2 linked regions of the Homo sapiens genome follow. The protein of the gene in region 2 interacts with the protein of the main gene of each other region in a pairwise test. Each region holds a gene or a part of one and is shown on either strand. Other genes may lie near its edges.

What was found.
Region 1: the proteins of TCP11 (region 2) and GSTZ1 interact in binary tests that used the Homo sapiens proteins (3 or more experiments, as listed by UniProt).

Annotation. Positions count from the first base shown.
Region 1 is NC_000014.9:77,315,931-77,324,127, reverse strand, and holds the start of GSTZ1 (maleylacetoacetate isomerase), read right to left. Parts: upstream 3,093-8,197; 5' UTR 2,960-3,092; coding exon 2,945-2,959; intron 2,862-2,944; exon of another isoform or gene 2,565-2,861; intron 1,582-2,564; exon of another isoform or gene 1,396-1,581; intron 1-1,395. Other genes in the region: POMT2 (protein O-mannosyl-transferase 2), read left to right, coding at 3,447-3,694.
Region 2 is NC_000006.12:35,124,129-35,131,398, forward strand, and holds part of TCP11 (T-complex protein 11 homolog), read right to left. Parts: intron 5,055-7,270; coding exon 4,934-5,054; intron 4,664-4,933; exon of another isoform or gene 4,450-4,663; coding exon of another isoform or gene 4,429-4,449; intron 4,292-4,428; exon of another isoform or gene 4,155-4,291; intron 1-4,154. UniProt on the Homo sapiens protein: Plays a role in the process of sperm capacitation and acrosome reactions. Probable receptor for the putative fertilization-promoting peptide (FPP) at the sperm membrane that may modulate the activity of the adenylyl cyclase cAMP pathway.

The sequences.
Region 1 (8,197 bases), on a different chromosome or scaffold from region 2:
GTTTCTTACGCTCCTGCTGGGGCCAGGTTTGGTGTCCCCCCAACAGAGCGTGGCCTGGTTTTGATGCAGTATTTTGAGTGGTGGAGCGGGCTGGGAGCTGGCATCTGGAGTCTGGACCTGGTGCAGGAACCAGCTCTGCATGACCTTGGACAAACCTCTGCCTTTTTAAATCTTCGGCTCCCTCATTTGTAAAACAAAGGTTGCCCTAAAATGATGGCAGGGCATCCTCTAGCAATGCAGCAAGACAAGGAATTCTAATTTTTTGACGCTTTGGTACATATCTCCTTCAACCCCACCTCCCAGCAGTCCTCCGGGCTCTCGGCTGTCCCCATAAAAACAGCTGGCAGATATGCTCACTCACCCCAAAGGTGAGGTCAAAAGCTGGCAGCTCACTGGGGCCCTATCTGGCCCTCAGAATTTCTGTTTGCTCAACACAGTAGTTTAAAATGTTTCAAGTAGTTGCCAATGTTTAAAAATCAGGACATTTCATTCTAGTATGGTGGGTCATGCCTGTAATCCCAGCACTTTGGGAGGCTGAGGCCAGCAGATCACCTGAGGTCAGGAGTTCGAGACCAGCCTGGCCAACATGGCGAAACAACATGGCTAAACAAAAATTAGCCAGGTGTGGTGGTGTGCATCTGTAATCACACCTACTTGGGAGGCTGAGGTATGAGAATTGCTTGAACCCAGGAGGCGGAGGATACAGTGAGCCAAGATCGTGTCACTGCCCTCCAGCCTGGGGGACAGAGCAAGACTCCATCTCAAAATAAATAAATAATAAAATAAAATAAAAATAAAAATCATGATATTTTATATACAACACCTGTTTGTTTTTTTTCTTTAAAAAAATCTGGAGACAGATTTGGGTTCCTAAATAGCAGCAATTGATGGGAACAGACTAATGGCCCCCATCAACCAGCGTATGCGCTCTCAGGTCTGCCATGGCCCATATCTGGCCCACTTTTCTCATTTTTGTTACCTTTGGGCCCTTGGGGGCAGCTGGGTGTGCGATCTCTACTCCAAGGTTTAAGGGGCTCAAAGTTAATTTCTCTGGTACTTCTTCGGGAGCCAGCATTTCAAAGTGGAACCCAGGAAAGACTCGCCAGTGATTAGCACTCATGAATCTTCCCACCAAAACATGTGTATCCCTATGGATAGGGGAGAACTTGAAAGAACTTCTCAGATGCCCTGTTTACTACCCCTCTGACTATAGACATTTCACCAAAGCTCCCTCTCCCCTCTGCCACCCCTAGCATATTAAGCTGCTCTCTGAACTTGCTATTGCCATCCCTGTACTACCAACTCAGTCTGCTAGATGGCAAGGGTGTAAGTGGGAACCTAGGCCCTTCCAAGATGGTTCCCAAGCCCAGCAGTCCCAGCCTGTCCTGAAGGTACCTTTTGTGGAGAAAGTAAAGATGGTCCTGGCACAGAAAGCAGGTGATGGGCAGAAAGTGTCTTTCGAAGAGGAGGAATTGGGTGGCCACAACTGGATCTTCCTTATTTGGAGATGCAACTCCCTTTCCTTACCTAGCCAGGCTACAGGGACTCCTGGTGCCAAGGGACAGGGACTGCTGGTGACCACTAGAGTGTGGCAGACATTAATTAGCTTAGAATCCCTGAAGAAATGCCTTACCTAATGGCTAAATGCCTTTGGATTACACCTTTGGATCTGTACTACGAGTGACCAGAAGCATGGTAAATGCTGCTGCCCTCCGTCACGACCCACAAGCAGGAAACCTGAAATCTCTTAGGCAATTTCTGCCTTCTCTTACCAGTGATAACTATGTAAACCATGCCCCGTTCCTTTCTGCACTTGTAGAACTAAACTTTAAGCCCAAGTATCCATCTCATCAGCACTCCTAGAAGACCTGTGTTTCCAATTCAAATATGCATTCTGATTACTTTAGCAGATTTTATTTTTAAACCATGTCTTACACATGATTTGAGAAAAAGACTCCTAAAATCCCATTTGGAAGAGGGAGGACTATACATTATTAACGTGACGCAAAGTCCCATCTAACGTGCCACCTTCCTTAGTGCCACAAAAGTGGTTCTCAAACTTCATGGCACGTTAAGAACCATCTAGACCGCTTATAAAAACATGCAGATTCTCGAGCCCGTTCCACCAGAGATGAACAGAGTGGCTCTGGAGCAGGCCCCGGGAAGAACATGTGAAAGCCGTGAAGCTCCCCAGGTGATTGTCATGACTGCCTCTCCTCGCTCGGGGCCTTTTTTTTTTTTTTTTGAGCCGGAGTCCCGCTCTTTCGCCCAGGCTGGAGTGCAGTGGCGCGATCTCGGCTCACTGCAAGCTCCGCCTCCTGGGTTCACGCTATTCTCCTGCCTCAGCCTCCCGAGTAGCTGGGACTACAGGCGCCCGCTACCACGCCTGGCTAATTTTTTTGTATTTTAATAGAGACAGGGTTTCATCGTGTTAGCCAGGATGGTCTCTATCTCCTGACCTTGTGATCCGCCCGCCTCGGCCTCCCAAAGTGCTGGGATTACAGGCGTGAGCCACCGCGCCCGGCCCGGGGACTCTTAAAATACAAACATTACTGGAAGGTCACCTCCTGCTAGGGCCAAGAGAAGAGCATGAAGGGCTGCGAGAAATTGGGAGGCTTGGGGCGACGTTTGGAAGCCTTAGTGGAGGGAGGGGTCTGTTATGGGGAGCAGGGAGGGCGGAGCAGAAGTGAAGCGCGACCGGACAGCGACTCCACCCTGCTACGCACTCCCTACCAGGACCGCCTCCTCTGGCCCAACCCTCCCGGAACTTCGAGCCCCAGCGGGCAGCGCGCAGCACGCAGGCGCAGAGCGTGCCCGGCGCAAAGCACTGCATGCCGGGAGTCGTTGTCGGCCTGGGCGGGCGGTGCAGCTCACTTCTGACCCCGCCCCCCAGGGTCTCCAGGTGTCTAACCAGCTTCCCTCCACCCGGGTGCGCGTCACAGACCTTCCCCGCCTGCATCTGGCACTTCGCGCGACCCCCTCCTCCAGGCCGAGAAACTTCGCGCCTGGGACCTGCCGACGACTAAGGCTCAGTGAGACTCGACGAATCAGGCCCGTGTCTTTCGTCCGGGTAAAGCGAGGGGCTGGACTAGAAAGATCCTTCCGGTCGCCTCTGGCTCGCCCAGCTCTCCCGCCACGCCCCGTACCTGGGGGCTGCTGGGAGTTGCAGTTCCCTGAGCCCGACCCCTCCTGCCCAGTCCCCCCCGCCCCGGGCCGGCCGGCCCTCCCGGTCCCGACATGCTCTGCGCCTCCTGCCGCCTCCTAGCGGCCCGGGCCGCGACCACGCTGCCCGCCCCGCCCCGAGCCCGGGGCCCCGCGCTCCGCTGCAGTGAAGGGCGTTGCATTTCCCGGGGTACCCCGAGCTGCCCTCTTGTGACTCCTTGGCGGGGCGGCTGGTCAGACAAAGTGTGCCTCCGGGCCGGAGGGCGACCCAGAGGAGGGGGAAGATGCCGCCGGCCACGGGCGGAGGCCTGGCAGAGTCCGAGCTGCGTCCCCGGAGGGGCCGCTGTGGCCCCCAGGCTGCTAGGGCCGCAGGCCGGGACGTGGCCGCTGAGGCTGTGGCGCGAAGCCCCAAACGGCCTGCTTGGGGCTCACGGCGCTTCGAGGCGGTCGGCTGGTGGGCCCTGCTGGCCTTGGTGACGCTGCTGTCCTTCGCCACCCGCTTCCACCGCTTGGACGAGCCGCCGCACATCTGGTGAGTGATGGGAGGGACTCGGCGGGCACCATGGCAACCGCGACGGGACGCCGCCCTCTGATTGGCCCGAGGGTACGGAGGGGGCGGGATCTATAGGAGGAGGGCCACGGTGGAGGGGAACTTGAGGTATCGGGTGGGTTGGCCTCTGGCGAGGTGCATTCTCTGGGAGGGGGATCGTTTTGCTCTGGTGGTGGGGCAGTGGGATTCTTAGTATCTGAGGAAGCAGCCCTCATGTCTTCCAGGTTATGCTACAGTGCATCACCTGGCTTGCAAATTGTGGCTTTTAAAGGTGCTTTCAACTTTCCAAAGAGAATTGCAAATTTTTGGGTACAGAATTTTCTAAGGCCTGAGTTCCTATGTCTGCAGGATTTTCAGGCATCAACAGAGGAGAAAATACCTAACTGTGTACCTTTATCCTATAGGGCAAGGACAGTTTGGGTGTTCAGGTATGGTGACCAAAGGATTTTATGAGGCAGAACTCTTCTTGTGAGAAGAGATTTATTTTCTTAAAGGTTTTAGCTTGTACTATCCAGATACTGGGTGTCAGAAATGGAATTCTTTAAGCAAAAAGCAGGCAAGAAAACAGACTGTCAGGGTTGCTTTATTTAGAAATTAATAAATTAGCTTGTTATTGTGTCGTGACTGCTGGCAGAAGATGAGACTCCTGGGTTAGAGACAAAGGACTTTATTACAGGAAATAGGATGCATGTTAGAAGCAGTTTCCCTTGCCATCCAAGTCCCACAGGGTGACGCTATGGGTTTAAATGGATGACTGCACAGGCAGTGGGTTGCATCCAAGTGAAGGAACGACAAGCTTGGAAAATCTGCTGTTTTATAGAAGGCAGTACGCAGACCTCCTCTTTGTCCTGGAGGGAGACACTGCCTCTTCTCTCAAAGTTGCTTGCTGCAAACACAACCATGAGAAATGGCCCAGGTGAGATGCAGTCAGGGCCTTGCATTCTTGGTATACCCAGAATGATGTGTAGAGGCACGAGCAATCTGACAGCCTCTCTCACTCCTCGATTCTATGGTCTTGGCTTCTAGCAGATTTTCACATGAATATACAACTCCCCTGGCTACTCACATCTTTTCAGTTTGTCCCTTACAGCATTTAATTAAGGTTGTTGTCAATGGGACTCTAAGCAGCAGAATAAGGCCAGCTTACAGTATTTACCTCAACCATGCCCTCCAGGGTCCTGGATTCAGCCACTTGTGAATAAGTCCTGGGGGCACCGAGGAATCTTATTTCAGACATCTGGGCTGCAGTCTAAGACCAGTCTATTAACCACTGTGACCTGTGCACAGGGGTTCAGATTGATCTCTGATCTTTGGTGTCATTACCAGTAATTACAATAGCCCACTACCCTTGTAAAAATTTTTTTAAGAAAGTAATTACCAGGCTGGGCGCAGTGGCTCACACCTGTAATCCCGGCAGTTTGGGAGGCCGAGGCGGGCAGATCACCTGAGGTCAGGAGTTCGAGACCAACCTGGCCAACATGGTGAAACTCCGTCTCAACTGAAAATACAAGACTTAGCCGGGCATGATGGCGGGTGCCTGTAATCCCAGCTACTCGGGAGGCTGAGGTGGGAGAATCACTTGAACCTGGGAAGCAGAGGTTGCAGTGAGCTAAGATCGCACCATTGCATTCCAGCCTAGGCGACAAAGCCAGACTCTGTCTCAAAAAAAAAAAAAAAAAATTAACTACCATGATTAATGGAAAGATATTTTGTGACCCATTCTTCCTTACACTAACATATTACTTGGAGGAGTGCAGGCCACTCCAGGATTTTTGTTAGATTTTTATTTGGATCACCATCAAATTTGATTACCATTACAGTGGTTTAAACCACATGGGCAGTGTCACTGAACAGTTGCAGCCTCAATCACTAGACAAGGCATAACCTAAGTAAGGCCCTTAGGATCTCAGGAGAAGCATGTGATTTGTATCAGCCGCATTGATAGAAGGTGGTGCTGATCTGTGTGTTTGCACACCTATGAGGGAGGTCTGCGTTTGGGAGTTGGTGTTGATGTCATCAGGCACGTGGGAATAGTTCAAGACTGGCCGTGTCCATGTGAGTTTTTGTTTTCTTTTTTTATTTTCTTTTTTATACTGACCTGCTAGATAAAGTTTTTATGTTTTCATAGTGAGATGACAAACTCAGCCACAGGTCAGATTGCCAGCCACAGTTGCTGCTTGACCTAGATGGACCATGTGAATGTTTGCCAGGCTTTGGTGCTGGATAGGGACAAAGAGAACATTGTTTCCCTTCTCTTTACATCTCCAGGGTCCTGTGGTGTTCCTTCCCCAGATGCCAGGATTGTTTCTTTCCTTCCATTGCTACATAATGAGTGTGTCCTACCCTAGTAACTATAACTTCACCTTTTCTCCATTTATCCCCTACCAATACGCAGGCCTTCTAATATCCAATTGTTAGAAAATTGACAGAGGCCCATTATGTCTTCTACCTTGACACATGTGGGCCACTGTAGGGGGACTTTAAAAGCACTATACCCAACCAAATGATCATTAACTTTATGTTCTGGCACCAGGCCATTCCAACAAGACAATCTAGTGACTGAACTAGAATTAAGTCTGAATTACATAGATAGCCTCCTCCTCCCAGCTGATCTGGGCTTTCTGTAAGGGGGAAGAAAGATGAATCATGGCCAGAAATGGTCAGGGGAGAATCTCACATTTTCAAAATAGGTTTATATAACCCTCCACCCCTTTTTCCTGATCATTACCCAGTTGGTAGGCAAAAGGAGATGACCCATTTCTGAGAATGGCTGCCTTAGGTGACCAAACTGCTTCAGTAAGGTTTGCAGACCAGGAGGAGGTTAAAAACATAGAATCAAAAATCTTTTTGAGTTGATCTTTGAGGGAACTGTTCAGTACTTGACAATGTCATGCCTGTGGATGGTAGGGAGTGTGGGAGGTCCATCGAATACCTTGGCTATTGACTGTTGACACTGTTGGGTGGCCATTGCGACAAAAAGATATGCCAGTGTCAGACTGTAGATGGTTTGGAAAGCAGAAAACCTGGCAGTTTAGTTTCAAGGGCCACAGTGGTATACACAGAGTCAGATAATTGGACTGGAAAAGCAACATCAGCACTGTAAACTGAAAAAGTATCAGCAGTAGCAAGGTACTGATGAGAGCCTAGAGAAGGGAACAAAGTCCTAATGTCAATCTCCCAGGAGCAGGTGTGGTCAGTGCCCCTTGCAATGTGGCTTCCTTTACTGCAAGACAAGCAGGCCAACTTTTGGCAGGAGTCACAAGTCTGGCACGCAGTGGTGGCTTCTGCCTCAGAAACATGTAGTCCCTTACGTTGTGCCTAGCCCATGATGGTAGATGTTTCCACACCGGTTGCATGAATCCAGGTGGCTATGGCAGCAGTCTTGGTGGTGCAGGCTGGATCAGCAGTTTGATTCCAGTCAGTCTTACGAGAGTACCTGCCCTTAGTGTGGGCACCTACGTGAGTGATCCAGTCTGTCCTATTGGCAGGCAGCCATGATGTGTTTCCACACTTCTCAGCTTTCATCTCTCAGTATTTAGTCTTCCAAGTGGCATACCAAATGCTTCAATCCTTACTGCCATCAGCCATCCAGAGTTATCATTGGGGCTAAGTGCCTGCTGCTGCTTGGTGGGCAACATCAGCTTTTAACTCAGCCTAATCATTGGTGAGCCAGGCCTAAGCATTTACAGGAACCCCTGTGAATCAAGGGCCCTACTGAACAGCAGCTCGGCTTCAGGTAGCAGAGAAGGTTGTTTCTCCCAGAGTGGGAGCTGCCACTTCTTCACGTAAAACCAAGATGCCTCTAGGGCCAGGCTAGCTATACTCTTTTTTTTTTTTTTTTTTTTTTTTAGAGATGAGATCTGACTCTGTTGCCCAGTCTGGAGTGGAGTGGTACAATCATAGCTCACTGCATCCTCAAACTCCTGGGCTCCTCCTGTCTCAGCCTCCTGAGTAGCTGGCACTACAGGCACGTGCCACCATGTCCAGCTAATTAAAACAGATTTTTTAAGAGCTGAGTTCTCACTATCCTGCCAAGGCTGGTCTTGAACTCCTGACCTCAAGCCATCCTCCTGCCTCAGCCTCCTGAATAGCTGGGATTACCAGCTGTACTCTTGAATGTACTATTTCCATAGGATCAGTGAGGCTTGTTAAACCCTTCCCTTGTTATCAGTAGATTCCCATTGACCCACCCCAAAGTGGGAATACTAGGCCAGGGAGTCCTGAGGCCTTTATGGGTCTGGCAATCAATTTCAAAGTGTTGAGTAGTTAACTAAGGAGTTAATAGCTGTCCTTTTAAAAAGGGTGTGCTTGGTACCTATGTCCAGCAGGTGGCACTGTGATTCTGGTGCATGGCTCTCAGTACTCCAGCAGCCACAAAGTTGTTTTTTGTTTGTTTGTTTTTGTTTTTTGAGATTCTCGCTCTGTCGCCCAGGCTGGAGTGCAGTGGCGCAATTTCAGCTCACTGCAACCTCTGCCTCCTGGCTT
Region 2 (7,270 bases):
TGTGTTTGCTACTTTGACATTCATTTGAGTGATTTTGATTTATTTAGAATCACTCGAGGTTACCCATATGTCGTGGGGGATGGGGGAGTGCTAACTAACTAGAGCAAGAGTAGGCTCTGCAGCAAGTTTAGACTGTAGTACAAGCCACTCTACCATTTGGGCCTTATGATCCTGCAGATCCAATGACACTTTAAGTGTCCATAGCAAATAAGGGTGCTGTACAGAATGTCTTGCAAGCACCAATAAGGGAACCACACATGGACCTTTAGGAATTGGGAGCAAATCTATTCCTTCTTTAATGATAATTATTCACCTTTTGAGAAACAACTTCTTGGGCCTTGGTAGAAAGTAAACACCTTACTATAGAACACTGGGTAACCATGTGGCCTAAGCTTCCCATCAGGAATTAGGTATTGTCTAACTTACGTAGCTACAAGACTGGACATGCACAGCAGCAATCTATTATCAAATGAAAATGGCTTATAAGAGACCAAGCATATACTGGTAATAAGAACAGATACACAGACCAAAAGAATAGAGAGCTGATAAATAAAACCTGGATATATAAGGTCAAATGATTTTCAACAACAATGCCAAGAACCAATGGGGAAAGGACAGTCTTTTCAACAAATGGTGCTGGGAAAACAGGATATTCACATGCAAAAGAACAAAGTTGGACCTTTACCTTACCCCCATATAAAAATATTAATTCAGTTGTGCACATGTACCCTAAAACTTAAAGTATAATAAAAAATATATATATATATTAATTCAAAATGGTAGTGGCTCACGTCTGTAATCCCAGCACTTTGGGAGGTCGAGGCAGGCGGATCACCTGAGGTCAGGAGTTTGAGACCAGCCTGAGCAAAATGGTGAAACCCCATCTCTACTAAAAATACAAAAAATTAGCCGGGCGTGATAGTGCACACTTGTAATCCAGCTACTACTTGGGAGGCTGAGGTGGGAGAATAGCTTGAACCAGGGAGGCAGAGATTGCAGTGGCCAAGATCGCACCACTGCACTACAGCCTGGGTGACAGAGCAAGACTCTGTCTCAAAAAAAAAAAAAAAAGAAAGAAAAAAGAAAAAAAGGACCTAAACATAAGAGCTAAAACTACAAAACTCTTTGGAGAAAACATAGGTGTAAATATTCATGATCTAGGATTTGGCAGGATTTGACACCAAAAGCATAAAATTCAATAAAAGACAATCCAATTTAAAAATGGACAAAGTACCTGAGTAAACATTTCTTTGAAGAAGATGTACAAATAGCCAACAAACACACGAACAGATGCTCAATATCACTAGCCATTAAGAGAAATGCAAGTCAATGAGATACCACTTCACACCCATTAGAATGGCCATTACCAAAAATGGAAAACAGCAAATGCTGGCTAGGATGTGGAGAAATTGGAACCCTGGTACATTGCTGGTAGGAATATAAAATGGTGTGGCTACAACAGAAAACAGTTTGGCAGTTCCTCAAAAAGTTAAACATAGAATTACCATAGGATCCAACAATTCCAACTTTAGGTATATACCCAGAAAAATTAAAAGCAGGGACTCAAATATATACTTGTACACAAGGTTTACAGCAGCATTATTTACAATAGCCAAAAGGCATAAAGAACCTAAACGTCCATCAACAGATGTATGAACAAAATGTATTCTATCCATATAATAAGAATATTATTCAGCCATAAAAAGGAATTACATTCTGATATATGCTACAATATGGATGGACCTTTAAAACATTACACTAAGTTAAACAAGTCCAAAACTAAAAGGACAAATATTGTATTCCATTTATAAGTACCTAGAGTAGTCAAATTCATAGAGACAGAAAGTACAGGTGCTAGTGGGAGAGGGGAAAGGGAAATTATTGTTTAATGAGTACAAAATTTCTGTTAGGGAAGATTCAAAGGTTCTGGAAATGGATAGTGGTGATGGTTATATTGTAAATATACTTAATGCCAGTGAACTGTAACACTAAAAAATAGTAAATTTTGTTATGAATATTTTGCCACAACAAAAACAAATCCTAAAAAAAATTAAATAAATTTTTTAAAGCCCCCAATATGGCCCATTCCCCAGGGAGGATCAGTCAGCCATCTTATGGCAGATGATTTCACTGGACCTCTAACAGTTTAGAGAGGGCGAGATTCATCCTTACTGGGATAGACACATATTCTGGATATGGAGTTGTCTTCCCTGTTTGCCATGCTTCTGTCAGTACCAGCATCCAGATAATCACAGAATGCCTTATCAGCTGTCCTGGGTCTTTGCCTACTCCATTGCATTGCATCTGCTCAAGGAACTCATTTCACAGCAAAGGAAATGCAGTGAATTCATACCTACTAAATTAACTGGTCTGACCAAAAAGCTTTCACTGAGAATCAGCTGGCCCTAACTAAAAAGTAGAATGGCTTATTTTAGACTCAATTACAGCATTAGGTGAGCAACAATACCTGAAAGGAAGGGAATTGGTCTTACAGGATGCAATATATGCTTTGAATCAAAGACTTTTTTTTTTTTTTTTTTTTTTTTTTGAGACAGGGTTTTGCTCTGTTGCCCAGGTTGGGGCACAGTGACACAATCATGGCTCACTGCAACCTGTGCCTCTCAGGCTCCAGCAATCCTTCCGTGTCAGTCTCCTGAGTAGCTGGGAATAGAGGCATGTACCACCACACCCAGTTAATTTTTCTATTTTTTGTAGAGATGGGTTTCACCACATTACCCAAGCTGGCCTCAAATTCCTAGACTCAAGCATTCTGCCCACCTGAGCCTCCCAGAGTGTTGAGATTACAGGTGTGAGCCACTGTGCCTGGCTTCAAAGACCATTCTATGGTGCTGTCCCCTAATGCCAGAATACATGGGTCCAGGAATCAAGCAGTAGAAGTAGGACTGCTTCCTCTTACTAGCACACCTGATAACCCACTTGCAGGATTTTTGTTTCCCATCCTGCCAACTTTGAGGTCTGCTGATTTGTGTGAAATACTTGCATTGGTTCCAATGAAACAGAAGATGAAACTGACCATTGGGGGCTCCTTATACCACTGAACCAAAAGGGTAAAAAAAGGAGTTACTGTACTGGATGCCGTACTTGCTCCTGAGTACCAATGAGAAATTGGATTGTGGCCACACAATGGGGGTAAGAAAGACCATGCCTGAAACTCAGGAGATTCTCTGAGTTGCCTCTTAGTACTTCCAAGCTCAATATTAAAGGTTAATGGAAAACCACAACAAACAAAGCAAAATGTCTCAGACTCTTTGGCAATGAAGGTTTGGGTCACTGCACCAGATAAAGAACCCCAACTAGCTGAAGTTCTGGCCAAGGACAAGGGAAATATGGAATGAATGAATCGTGGAAGAAGGAAGCCATAGATAACAACTATAGCCTTGTGACCAGTTATGGAAACAAGGACTATAAATTTTATCTTTGCTTATTATATGTATGTTTATTTATATATGCCAACATTTTGTTCTTCCTCTTTCTTTCCATTGTTATTTTATATACAAGTTGTTAGAAGTTAAATTTTATGATTTAGCCTTTAGGTAACACAATAGTCAGTGAAACTGGCTGAATTTGAGGAGCGGCCAGTGATGGATACAATAACTATTTGGGCCATGTCTCCTCATTTTGGGGGAGGATAAATAATAAATAGCTATCTGTCTTGTAAGAGTTCTTTTCAGGAATTCAAATGTGTATAGAAGAGCGCATGTGGAAACTGAGTAGCCGAAGGGGTGGACTGTGCCATTTATCAATATATTGCCTCACAGATCCAAATCCATTGTTCTTTGCTCTGTGAAAATGGAACTAAGTCCTTTCCATATCTTTCCTTTGCCAGATAGCACATTTTAAGCTTCACCGGCAGAAAGTGTTATTTAGTTTTCTGTGCTGTGTAACATACTGCCATAATCCTAGCAGCTTATAAGAACACACATTTATGATCTCAGTTACTGTGGGTCAGAAGTACAGACGCAGTTTAGCTGGGTCCTCTGTTCAGGGTCTCACAAGTCTGCAAGCAAAGTGTTAGCTGGGCTGCATTCTCATTTGGAAACATGACTGGGAAAGATTCCGTTTCCAAGCTCATTCAGATTGTTGGCAGAATTCATTTCCTCACAACTGTATACTTGAGGGCCCCAGCTTCTTACTGGCTATTGTCTGGATGCTAACCCCGGGTCCTAGAAGCCACCTGCAGCTCCTTGCTATGTGGCCCTCTCGATAGGCAGTTCACAACACAGCTGTTTGCTTCTTCAGGGCCAGCAGGAGAATCTCTCCCTCCAGTCTCCTAAGACAGAGTATTACATGATGAAATGTAATCATGGGAGTTATATCCCATCACTTTTGCCGTACTGCTTAGAAGTTGCAAATCTCATCCACTCAAGGGGAGAAGATTATACAAGGGTGCAGAACATTGTGGGTCACCTTACGGTATGTCTGCCACATACTAGAAAGACATTGCAAAGGCAAGAGCTTTTATTCCCGGTTCTGGTATGTTCACTCAGCAGGCTCCTGCAGTACTTGGCTCCTGCAGCATGAATAGCTTCTCCAGTGCTTGGTTCCTGCAGTGCACTGTGGTCAGCAGCATACACAGGCCAGTAACGTCTCATGGCATAGCTATGCCCTCTCAAATGAGGTCCTTGGTTGGCCTCTCTCAGCCCTAAGGGTATGATAGATGCCCTTTTATCTGATATTCAAGGATTCTTTAGTTTTCCTTACTCTTACTAGCCAAGCCCTCATTTCTCCTACTCTCTGTTATAATAATTTTTATATTAAACCCTCCCTGCTAAAATTACTGTATGATTTCTGTCTATTGCTTAGTCTCTGACTGATTCATGGACCATGTTCAGTTAAGATTTGCTAGCCACTGACACTCCAATGAGCTGGAGATGTCTAGAAACTTTACATTTACAAATGGAAGGTCACTCACCTCTTTAATTTCTTTCAGAAGTTCAAGAGCACAGCTGAAGTCAGGGGGAGTTGCTGATAGTTGCTCTTTAAGATGGTCCCAAAAGGCATTGTGCACTGTCTCCTTGACCTTGCCTTCCAGACTATAAGAGGGTTAAATGAGCAGATTACTCTCTCAACCCAAAAACAGTTACAGTGTCATAACCTCCTAAACCCCAAACTGAATTTGATATGGTAAAAGGCCATTATAATAACAGGGAAAGGCCAGGAACTATGTTGGAACTGCAGCAGAGTTGAACAAGCTAGGGTTAGATTTGTATTTCAAGGGCAATGGCAAAACCTCTCAGAAGGGCTCCTTGTGGTTCCAGAGCAGCCCTCTCTCTGCAGTAGAAAGAACCCTGAATGGAGAGAAGTCAGGCTGACTTTTAGCACTGACTGTGCATCTAGCCTAGATAACTTGATTTCCATTTGTGTATACACATAGCATTGAGCTAAATGATCTTTCATTTTCTTATACTCCTGAAATCTAGGAAAGGATATTGCTTCTTTGAAAATACCAAAGGTCCACAGATATTTCCAAATCAGCGTATCTAAAACTAAATTCATTATCTTCCTCCTCCAAACCTGCTCCTCTTGTATTCCCAATTTCAGTGGCACTACCATCTATATAGTAATGGAAGCCAGAAAGAAGTCTTTTTTTTCACCTTGAAAAAAATACAAGGAGCAAAGGAAATTTGTTTTATTTTATTTTTTGAGACAGGGTCTCACTCTGTTGCTCAGGTTGGAATGCGATGGCACAATCAAGGCTCACTGAAGCCTCAACCTCCCACGCGCAAGCAAATCTCTTGCCCCTGCCTCCTGAGTAGCTGGGACCACAGGCATGAGCCACCGTGCCAGCTAATTTTTTTATTTTTTTATTTTTAGTAGAGATGGGGGTCCCGCTATGTTGCTCGGGCTGGTCTTGAACTCCAGGGCTCAAGAAATCCACTTGCCTCTGCCTTCCAAAGTGCTGAGATTACAGACGTGAGCCACTGCACCCAGCCAAGGCAATTCAATTTAGAAATGAGGGTCTTTCAACAAATAATGTTGGAACAACTAGATATCTAAATACAAAAAAATAAAGAATCTAAACACAAGCCTTAAACTCTTCACAAAAGTTAACTCAAAATGGATCACAGACCTACTTGTAAAATACAAAACTGTAAAACTTGTAGAAGATAACATAGGAGGAAATATAGGTAACCTTGAGTTTGGTGATGACCTTTTAGATACAATGCCAAAAACATAATCCACAAAAGAAAAAATTGCTAAGTTGGACTTCATTAAAATTAAAAACTTCTGCTCTGTGAAAGACACTGTTAAGAGAACAAAAAAACAAGACACACACTAGGAAACAATCTTTGAAAAATATATATCTGATAAGGATATATATCCAAAACATACAAAGAACTCTTAAAACGCAACAATAGGAAAATGAACAACCATTAAAAAATAGGCCAAAGACCTTAACAGACATCTCACCAAAGAGGATGTTCAGATGGCAAATAAGTATATGAGAAGACGCTCAACATCATTTGTCATTTGGGAGTTGCAAATTAAAACAACAAAAAGAAAAAAAAAAGACACCGCTATATGACACCTATTAGAATGGCCAAAATCAGAAAACTGACAACACTAATGGCTGACCAGGATATAGAGAAATAGGAACTCACATTCACTGCTGGTCAGATGTAAATGGTACAACCAGTTTGGAAGGCAGCTGGGCAGTTTCTTACAAAAGTAAATATACTCTTACATATGATCTGGCTATCACGCTCCTGGGTATATACCAAAATGAGTTGAAAGCTTATGTTCACACGAAAACCTGCACACAAATGTTTATAGCAGCTTTATTCATAAGTGCCAAAACTTAGAAGCAACAAAAATGTCCTTCAACTGATAAATAAACTGCCCATAAAATGGAATATTATTCAATGATAAAAAAATGATTTGGGAGGCTGAGGCAGGTGGATTACTTGAGGTCAGGGGTTCAAGACCAGCCTGACCAACATGGTGAAAACCTATCTCTACTAAAAATACAAAAATTAGCTGGGTGTAGTGGTGTACGTCTGTAATCCCAGCTACACAGGAGGCTGAGGCAGGAGAATCGCTTGAACCCAGGAGGCAGAGGTTGCAGTGAGCCAAGATTGTGCCACTACACTCCAGCCTGGGCAACAGAGCGAGACTCCATCTCAAAACAAAAAGAAGGCCGGGCGCGGTGGCTCATGCCTATAATCCCAGCACTTTGGGGGGCCGAGGCGGGCGGATCACCTGAGGCCAGGAGTTCGAGACCGGCCTGGCCAATATGGCAAAACCCTGT